2 separate regions of the Homo sapiens genome follow, and region 1 is linked to region 2. A link means that fine-mapping ties the variant in region 2 to the expression of a gene that starts in the linked region. Tissue or cell type: whole blood. Region 2 holds a variant in brackets; the other region holds the start of a gene. All regions are shown on one strand. Distances are between the middles of the regions.

Region 1 (5,390 bases), 85 kb after region 2:
ATCTTTTCAAAACTCTAATCTGATCATGTCGTATTTCTGCTTAAACCACCTTAATGACTTACACTTTTAGCCCTAACTACCACTTACAAGGCCTAGTAAGGTCTGACCCTTGCCCACACCTCAGGGCTCATTTTGCATGCTGTACTCCTTCACTCTCTCTGGGGCCAACCACAGTAAATTTCTCTCATTCTTTGAGAGGCATCATGCTGTCCCCTACCCCTTACCCCCAAAGCCACCAAGGACTTTGTACATGCACTTTCTTCCCCACTTCATGTAGTTAATCCCATGCTTCTTTCTGATCTCAGTCCACACATGACTTCCTTGGAGAAGCCATCAGAGATCTCTCCAACAAAGTCAAATCCTTTTGCTATATTTGCTTATGGAAATATGGCCCCCATCTTTGCAGCATACATCTCAGTTGTGATTTTGTATTTATGTGTGTGGGATTATTTCACTTACATCTGTCTGCTTCACTAGACTCTAGGCTCTGTGAAGGACAAGAACCCTATGTGCTCTTGTTAAGTGCAGTGCTTGGCACATAATGAGTGTGCAGTAAATAGTTGTTAGATGAGTGAATGGGAAGACCAGAGAACGCTCTTGCATGTTATTAGCTGTAGTCACAGTAAGAAAGTCCTGTTTCTCTGGTCCATCCACTGGGACTTGGTAATGGTGTGGTCATAGGTAACTCTTCTAGACAATGGTATTTATGATAACTTCATCAGGAATTAAAGCCAAAGTGCTGAGGTTTTGTCCTGGTTCTGCAGTAGTGTGGCCTCAGGCAGGTTATAACTTTTTAAAGTCTAAATTCTAAATGTCACCTACAGATGAGAAGTCTCCTTCTGCCTTTGGCCTCTCACCAGCTGCTTTCTCCATGTCCTCTCCTCCCTCCCTTTTTGCAAAGCTAGGGGAGGGCCTGATGCAGAGCTGGCTTCCCTGTGGGAGGACTGGAAGGAACCACACAGCATGGATACTAATTCCATGAGTCCACATTGGTAATCAGAAACTAGGCCTGCCTTGCTATTTAGAAACTAATGCTATATTCTATTTCTTCAGATAAGCCAGTTTTGAAAAACAAGGCTTGAATATTTGGCAGGACAAGGAGCTACTCCCAAACACAGTTTCTTGCCAGCAAGGATGTCAATTTATCAAATTGAAAGGGTATAACCTAGGAGCCTCGGTTAGGTGTACTGGCTCCCTTTCTCGTTTGATTAGAATGACATACACGCTAATTGATCTCTTTCCGGCTCAGTCATCTCCATGCAGTAAAGAATTTCAAGCTGCTATTGTTTATTTCCTATGTATTATGTCTAAATATTTCATGGTGAATGAAGAAGAGTGACTATTTTCAAACTGGAATGCTTCTTCAGAAGAAACCCAAACTGGAATGTTTCTTCAGAAGAAACTTCAGAAGTCACCAAAAAGGTGACTCCTCCATCTTTCTGATTCTTGGATCCTAAAGTATCTTCAGCAAGTGAAGCCCAGTTTCATAACCGAAGAGGTGACTCCATCTGTCCTACAGACTTGCAGTGTGAAGCTTGCAATGGTTTCTCTGTATGTTAATTTCTCCATCTCTAGGATGGCCTATGTGGTTCTTACTAACCTCAGAGTGGTATCATGAAGCCACTGAAATGATACCAGAAGAAAACAAGAGTGATTAATCTTCTAGGATGATAAATCTATATTTTCTTCAAATTCTTCATTTTGCATAAAAACCTTTTTCAGAAAAGAATGTTAACATTGGATATATCTACACCTGATTTGACAGTTCCAAACTACACCCCAACCACCCACTTCTGAATGAGAAGAAAAAAAAATCAGAAGCCTGCAATTGTGTAACATGAAAATCTTTTCTGGACCAGGGCCCGTCACTGTGATTTGGCAACACAACTGGCACATCTCTTTTCTCATCTCTTGAAAAAAACCAACAGAGAAAAAAGTACCTTGAGAATAAAGGTAATGATTAATCTGTCAGGCACAAAAGGGATTGTTTTGGGGATTTCGGGTTCTAAGTCGCAGATTCAAACAAATAGCAGCGAACAGGGAATGACAGTTCCACCAGAAGACGATTAAGCCACAGCCTCTAATTGGAACGGCATTTGTACAGTCAGAGACTCTTACCAGACATCTCCAGGAATCTGTGAGCCATTGTCAAAACGTCCATTTTCATCTGGCTGTGAAAGTGAGGACCACAACAGGTAGGTATTGGTAGAAACAGGAGTCCTCAGAGAAGCCCCAAGATGCAGCCTGAGGGAGCAGAAAAGGGAAAAAGCTTCAAGCAGAGACTGGTCTTGAAGAGCAGCTTAGCGAAAGAAACCCTCTCTGAGTTCTTGGGCACGTTCATCTTGATTGTAAGTATTTCCTGATTTCCTACATTCAGACCCAATAATGCCTCCCTAGCTGCCAGGCTGGTAGTGGAGAGTTTTGTTTGGTTTGTTTTATTTAAGTTAATTGGGATCAGATTCATCTTTTCCAGGAAGAAACAAGTTACTAGAGGCTGTTTGACTATTTAGGGGTTGTGATATTAAGTTTTCAATTACCTATTGCATTTACCCACAAAAGTTGATGGGAATGGAAGAGAAGGAGTGAGTGAAGTGCCTTCTTTATTTCAGGTATTTACTTATACTCTAAAATGGCTTTGTGATTTAAAAGTCAGTCGTTAGTGTTTTCATTGATCAATTGATTTGTACCCTGCTTGCTTCCTCCAAGCATTGGGGTGACTCAGCCACCTGGAATAAGCATCAATAGTCAATAAATATAGTTGGCAAAAATATACATATGGATGGCAAGAAACATCTCAGTATGACAAGTACTTGACAAGTATTGTGCTGTCAGATCACTTGATTTTTAAGAAATTAAAAATTGCACTAGGTAGAAATAGTGTACCAGGCAATAGTCCAGCTTTAGTTTTGTGTCATTTTTGGTCTCTATTTAAAGCAAAGTAATCTCTAAATATCTTTGGAGATTTACAAGACAATTACAAGAACCTTCTAGATATAAACGAGGGACGACTTCTAAGAACCTCTTGAGGATTGCCCAGAGATTTACTCAGCTATTAACAAGAGACTGGAAAGTTTACTTAAGTGGTCTGGGCTTTCATTTTGCTGCACGTTCTAGCATTCTCTGTATCCTGAAGTTTTACCTGGAACCAGGCCATTTGTGAATAGAAATGTATTATCATGTGGCAACTATTGATTTCAACTGGTTTTTTTTATCCTGCTTAAGGATTTCCTACTCCAGGTATAAATAATTTCATTTTCCTTAAAGTTATAGAGAATAGCCCATAAACTCTGTGCATTAAAAGTTCTTTGCTTGGGGCAAATACATAATAATTTAGAAGAATAAGCTTGGAATGCATCAGCTAAGCCAAGAATGAGAAACAAATGTGAACTCAAAAAATTGAACTAGTGGAATGTGAAGAGAGAGTCATAAGTTTTCTGGTCTCTGAGAAACACATTAGACCAGATTCGTTACAGTATTTTCAGGGAGTTACGGACAATTTCTTGCACTCCTCATCTTCCCTTGGCATTCATTCCTGGCTGCTCTGACCACACTCACTGTCATAATGTAGCAAGACATTATGTAGTAAGACATTATGTAAGTAGTTATTTCTAACTAAAATAAAAGAAATAAAAGAGAGAAGATGAAAGTCAGTGATTCTTATGATTCCCGGTCACTGCTTACTGGAAAATCTTTCTTAGTGAGACTGAGACCCCTCTGTCATGTTACTTGACAATCTGGCCCCAAAGAAGCAGTTGTCAATACAGAGTGATTACAGCCTCACAGTGACGAGTGAGTCAGAAAAGTGAAGCAAATTCAGTTACAATTCTTAGTGCTCTGCAGAAAACAGAGGAGGAAATGAACTACACATCTTTTTTTTTTTTTTTTTGCAACCAAAAAGTTTAAAACCCTCTGTATTTCTTAAGAAGAACCTGTTTCATAATCCCGTGCTTTCTGTGTTGAAAGTGAAATTTGCTTTCAGCAGTTCACTGTTCAACTGGCCTTGTGTCTTCCCCACTATGCAAGGTAGGGGCTAAATAAAGAACATCTTGATATTGTCTGTTGAAAAATTAAAACTTGTATGTTCTGGATAAAGCCAGTCATTTCCTGAAATATTTAATTTCCATTTATACTATACATTTATTTTCTAAAGTGAACCCTAATAAAATCTGCAACCTTGATTATCATCTTCAGTTTTGTTGGAGCTTGTGGGGATGTATAAACAAAAAGTTCCTGCACAAACACAATTTTTTTAAACCAAGAAATCTACATGGTTTTGCTGAAAGTTTATCCAAAGTAATTTTCTGCTTTATTAGAGAATGTGCATTTTGCCTTGTATTTTCTAGTAAAAAGCTTTGTACATTGATAAGGCAAAGGGAAGGGGAACATCGAAAAGATGGCAGAGGATATAAAGGACTCAGTCTTTCAAATATGTGAGATTGTTTTTTTTCCGCCAACCTTGGGAGTCTGGTTCTATTTTTTTTCCCTCCTTTCAAAAACTGCTCTTATGGGGAGCATCTCAAACTAATCTAACACCATGGTATAAATTACGGGTCCCCAACACATGGGCCACGGACTGGTACAGGTGGTCCCTGGTGCTAAAAGGTTGGGAACAGTTGGTATAAAGGACTGATAAGGCCTACTGGTAGCATTAAGAGAAAAGAAGGTCCATGAAAAATTCTTTATAAACTACAACTAAAACCAACAACAATTAAGTCATAAGCCAAAAAGCTAGCTCTAATTTGGCCTTTTAGTCATTGGGATACGTAGGCCTTTCACCTTTACTAGTGTGGGGGGAAAGTTTGCAATGCAAAAGGCTGATCTCTTCCTTGGGCTGAACTTCAGAGAATCTCTAGTCATGTCTAGTCATTTCTCACAGGGACTATGCTCACTCCTACTACTCTATATATTCTCCTCTCTCTTCAAACTTTTCAGGATTCTTTGATACAGAGCTCATCTTATTGAAGATGCTGAAGTGAACAACCCAGCAAGCAGCTGTATTTCCTCCTGAGGTGGAAGGACAGCTTTCCAGGGCTGGACTTTTGAGTAGATAACATACTGTGTAGTCGGACAGATGCTGAATTCTTTTCTCACCCTGTCAAGCTTCCGCATTAGAGGTCTAACTTTTGGCATCTCTTAGAATGGAAAAAAATGCAAGTACTTCTGCTAAAAGTAGTACCCTTGATCTTTACCTTCAGTGCCCTGAAGGAAATAGAAAGAAACTATCCTGGAACACAGACTATGGAGGAAATAGGGGAGTGGGCAGTACAGGAAGGAGGAAGGAAGGACAGGGATGGTTGATTGTATGTGAGAAATTTCAGACACTGCAGTGTTCCCTTCTTCCTGCTCCTACCTTCCACCAGGACTGGGTGAGAAATCATCCCTCCTTGCTG
Region 2 (5,390 bases):
TCTGTCAAATGAAAAGGTTTGCACTTGACTCAGATCTTAGCAAATAATCGTATTTAAAGAATTAAATTATTCCTTAAATGTGATGCTTCCTCTTACCCCAGGAACTGGATTATAATATTATTTGCAGTAAGTCATTCCTAAAGGACCCTGACTTAAACTGTGATGATAAACTAATAAGCCTAATTGTGCATAATTTATAGAGTTCATTTTAAAATCACATCTAACATTTTGAGAAATTTTTGTACATCTTAAACTTAATTTTCTCTTTTTATTTATTTATTTTTTTAGATAGGCAACTTCCCAGAAAAGAAAAAAAGAGGAAAGGAGACAAATGAAAAGCTCAAATTTGGTCAAGATCCCTATTTGCCATTTAAACACAACATTAGAAAACTCTTGCTAGGACTACATTTTGAAATAAACCTCATGTTGGAGGTCAGTTCTGCTAAGAAATACCACTGAAAGCTGCCACTTGACCCGGAATTCCTCTACAAGAAAAACTAGCCATAACTACATGAGAGGCCTATATGAGAAACTGCCAGAATGTCAACTTCATTTGCAGTGGCCCCATATGGCCTGATCACTCTCCCTGGCATGATAAATCACTGGCAGAATTCTTACCTTCCTACGTTTGATCTCTGCTCAGCAAGATGTGGTTTTGATGTGAAGAACTCCAGATCTCTTAGGTCAGAGACAAATAGCAGTGGCACTGACCTGCAAAGTGCTAAGTCTCTATTAGACTCAAGTGAAAAGCTGTAAGCTTCTGACAAGTTCCCTTGCCACCACGCTTCCTCACCCTCCATGGTTTTCATGAGCTTAGCTTGGCAGGAAAGCTGCTCAAATGGTCTGGAGGAGAAATGACAACAAATATTTTCTGCCTACTACTATTACAAAGTATTAAAATCAATTTTCACCAAGACTCAAAGGAGGAAGTCTCTTGGGAGTCACTGCTCTAATTTCTAATATGGTAAGTCCTTAGCAAATATGAAACATTTTGATTTCCGCTGGATCTTTATGACACTGCTAGCCACTCATTTATATAACGAGAATCATTAACAGGGATTTCTGTGGACTACTCTTTGGTAACCATGAGTACATTGTTGAGACAGTATTTTCAACAAAACTGTTTGAGTGCAAATTTTCGGCCCTAAAAAGACCACAACTAAATATGCAAGCAGTTCAGTATTGTCTTTCAGATGCCCATAATCCCAAGTTCTGGGCCCAGGAAAGTAGAGTTCTAATTAGTCAGGGTGGGGTAAAGAAATCTTATAGCTTTTCTAATCCAACACTTTTAAAAAGTAGGTGGATTAATTAATAAGCATCTCATTCTGGTCTCTCATTTTGTAAGTAACAAAGCTGTTACCAGGATTTATTTTTTATTTTTTTTATTTTTTGAGAGGGAGTCTTGCTCTGTCGCCCAGGCTGCAGTGCAGTGGCGCAATCTCGGCTCAGTGCAACCTCTGCTTCCTGTTACCAGGAAATTTAAGTGGCGTACCCAGTATCACAAAGCATTTTCATATTTCCAGGTCCCATTATAGAATAGATAATAAATGATCAAGTTATTTTGTTCATTCGCTAATTCAATAAGTATTTATTCAATGCCTGCATATCCAAGAAACTGTTAAATGAACATACATAAGTGACAGAGCTGGGGTCAGAACACGGGTCTTCTAATGCCCTGTCCAGTGCCTTGTTCACTGCTCTGCAAGGTACACTGAAAGGTTTCTATTTCAGAGGAAGGGGTAAATGCGTGGCAATGAAGCAGAAGAGTTTTCCAAAGTGGATGTGTGTATACCTTCTTTAAAGGAAGCACATGAAAGAAATTTGTTTCAAAACACTTTACCTTGGAATTCACTTTCTAGTCCTGGCATTTTAACTATTAATGACTCTGCAAATGAAATCAGACAATTTATTGTCTAGGATGTATTCATTTATTCATTCATCAAACACGAAGATGTATGGACCACACTCTGTGTCAAGGCAGCCATGATACCGGCTCTCATAAAAATTTAAGTCCAAGAAAAAAATGAGTCTACAAATTAAACAGTAATTGGATCCCTTGGAGTGACATTATAAAACACACAGTACTTAACAGTAATAATAAAGTTCGAAATAAACCTAAAATGCCACATTTAAAATGCTTCTTCTAAGAGATTTTTGTGTTCTGAAGTCATGTGTGCCTATCACTGAAAATGACAGCAGAAATACTCCAAAAATTGTAAAACTAAAATTGGTGTGGAATTTTAGTTCACTGAAATTATAAAGTGTTCCAAAAAAGCAAAAAGCATGCTATCATTTTAACAGCTGCATTATTTCAACAGTTGTCCCCTTTACACCACTCACAATTACAGACACTCACAAATAAGGCCCTCATCTCCGTAGCAATAAGTTAGTGACTTTGCAAGCATTCAGTGAAAGCAAAATGTTTGGTTTGTTTTTTGGCTAAGTGTACTTTATGTACCCCTATTTATGCATACATGCCTATACTAAATGCTGAGCAATCATCTTTCTCCTTAAATCAGATCATCAGGAGTTCCAAAAATCACTGTTTTGTGTACTTCTTTTCTACGCCCTCTCTTTTTCTCTGTTGGAATTCCTGGTAATGATACCAGAATGTGGGCAAACCTCATTAGTCTCCCTGCTGTTTACAAGACAGGATTTATGCTCAATGTGCTGAACACAATGACACACATCACTAAATAGCTACAACTACCACCCAGGCTTTAATCTCAGAAATTTTTCACTCAGTACAAATACCTATCAGCATGGAGAAACATGGAAGAGCAATTACAGCCAACACGTGTAGTCTTTTAAGAGTACACCAATAAATACCCATTTGTGAAGGTTAATTTAATGCAACCCAGGCTGTTATCTGGAATAGTATATGTCGCCAATTCAATCCATTAAGTAATTACTAAATTCTCAGGAGGGCTCCCAGAAGTCAAATGTGGTTATTCCAGGTTCATTGCTTCTGGTCTCCCAAAGGACCATTTAGGCCAACAGCTGGGAGAGCCAACTACAAAGGTTCCCAGGCATAACTAACCATTTCATGCAAACAGGTAAATGAGTCTAAACGAGAAATAAGAGTTATCAAGTGCCTGTCCTAAGAGAAACACCAAGGGAAGCAGAAGAGAAGCACAAAAGGGGAGGAATAAAAAAGGAAAGAAAAGG[C/T]ATAAGTTTGGTAAGTAAAAAAGATCTGTTCTCTCTAAAAGTGAAGTCAGAGAAATCTGGAGATTGCAAGATCTGGCTTAAAGGACACAACCTTTCAGCAGTTTCTTTAGAGAGGATTTTTCAATCATTTATAATGAAACATTAATTGTGCACCCCAAATGCCACCCCTTTGTGTTGCTGAAACTCAAAGTTTGAGTACTGCATGAATTCCTCTATTCTGCCTCCCCACTGAGATTACAGGTAACAGAGGGATCTGATAGTAATTAAGCCTTAGTAAGATGATTGCTCATAAGAGACAAGATGGAACATACCCACCCAACTCTTTCTGGCAAGCATCTCTCTCACAGAAATTATAGCCCAGTTACACAAAATGATGGCCCACTGGGGCACAGAAAGCATTAGAAAGAATGTAAAATATATTATCCTCAATAGCCTCACACATCCTCCCTCCCAAGTCAATCTTAACAGCCATAAAAAAAGAAAACACTTTTTGAATGCAAACAAAACAGATCAAATAAACAGGTGTTATTAAGGGCAGTGTGTGACTACACAACCAATGAGGATTGAAAAACATCGTTCTTTATCATAACCTAAAAAATCACATATTCCCAGGTGATGTATACCTAAAGTGTCAAATTGTATCAATTCTCTCCTTTTTTTAAATTCATACTCCCATTTTTGTCTGGTTGGAATTGTTGCTTATGATAGCTGCGGACAATACTGAGTGGAATTAGACTTAGGATCTGAATGAAATATGGGATTTGTAGTTGAGGAACTGGGCTTGGGGTTTCCTATGAAACATTCAGCAAGGCTTTAGGTTAATAGTCCAAATTGTATTGTCTTTGTAGTGGTTATTATGTTTGTCCTTATTGTTACGAGTAGGGAAGGAGGAGTATTGAGTCCTGGAATTGCCACCCACTATTGCTGTTGAGCCTGAAAAAACTAACTTTAATATGCTTGATTTTCTCACTTATAAAATGAAGATATTAATACAATATCCACATCGTAGTGTTGCCCCAAGAATTTAATGTAATCATATGTGAAAAGTACTCTGAATATTGTAGTATTAATAATAAAAGCCGTAGCTATTAAAATATAACAAGTATTCATTAAGAAAACATTCTTGAAGTTTCTACATTGTTAGACATTGAGCTAGGTACTTCAGAAACACCATGATAAATAAGAGTTTATAATCTAGTACAGTTTAGAAGTAGGGAGTTACACAGAAAAATATAATACCATGCAAAAATTGTACCACTGAGAAGTGCAAATAAGTAATATGAATGCTCAGAGAATATACATTCATTATCAAAAAATAAGTGTGTAGCCAAAATTGTCAGGTGTTATATGTAAGTATATACACAGAAGGGGTAGTTTTAGTTTTAAGGTTGGAGAATTTCACACTTCCACAATATTTTCTTTAAAATTAGAGATACACATGTATGAACCAAATCACTGATGAAATTCAAACACAAAGGTAAATATATACACCAGCTTTGGGTTTAGAACTTAAGTTAAAATGTTAACAAAATAAGAAGTAATGTTATTTTCAGACCTGGTGCTTAGGAATAATTTAAATTCTCTTCACTAACAGGATGAAGTATATTATTCTTGAATAATGTAGAGTTATTCAAAAAAAAGGTCTTTTAGAAATTCTTTTTAAATTATTTGCTACCTATCCATGTTTTCTCCAAATCTATCAGCAGCACAGAGTGAATAATTCATCAATTTATCTTGACCCTTCAAAAATGAGTGTTGTATGTGTGTGAGAGACACAGCGCGAGCGCACATGAGCAAGAGTACAACCACAGCTAATATTTAAGTACTTATTCTGTTCCAGATAATGTAAGAAAGGTAGGGAAATTAAGTCTTGACATGAATAAGTTATAATAATCATGTTACCCTAGAGTTTTATACAGTGGCCGCCTAGAGGTAAGTTTGTGGAACACAGCACTGTTCTTAGTTTAGGGAAACTAGTGTGTATTAAAACCATCAATCAAAGTAGTTTCTCCTATTTTCCCATTATAGAGAAGACCACACATTCTAGACTTCCTAATCTGATTCCAAGACTTCAAGGAATACAATTTTTAAAAATTATTTAAACATCAATATTGTTTGACTTTCCAATGCTACATCATTTGTCTTTATTATTGTCCCCATGCATAAGCAATGACCAATTCTAGGAGGTAAAGACAGAAATGCAAAAAGCAAAAATAAACTTT

The links. PIP is the estimated chance that this variant, and not a neighbour inherited with it, causes the effect.
Region 1: it holds the start of AQP9, and the variant in region 2 is fine-mapped to the expression of AQP9 in whole blood (INTERVAL, PIP 0.92).

What each region holds. Positions count from the first base shown.
Region 1 is chr15:58,136,329-58,141,718 of GRCh38, forward strand. AQP9 (aquaporin 9) reads left to right here and starts at 2,053. Exons shown (of 6, transcript NM_020980.5): 1 at 2,053-2,348. The coding sequence starts at 2,238.
Region 2 is chr15:58,051,093-58,056,482 of GRCh38, forward strand. The region is part of intron 1 of ALDH1A2 (aldehyde dehydrogenase 1 family member A2); the gene reads right to left. Among named protein-coding and RNA genes, the nearest start is that of ALDH1A2-AS1, 11 kb to the right of the region's middle. The variant C/T (reference allele first, on the strand shown) is at 3,169.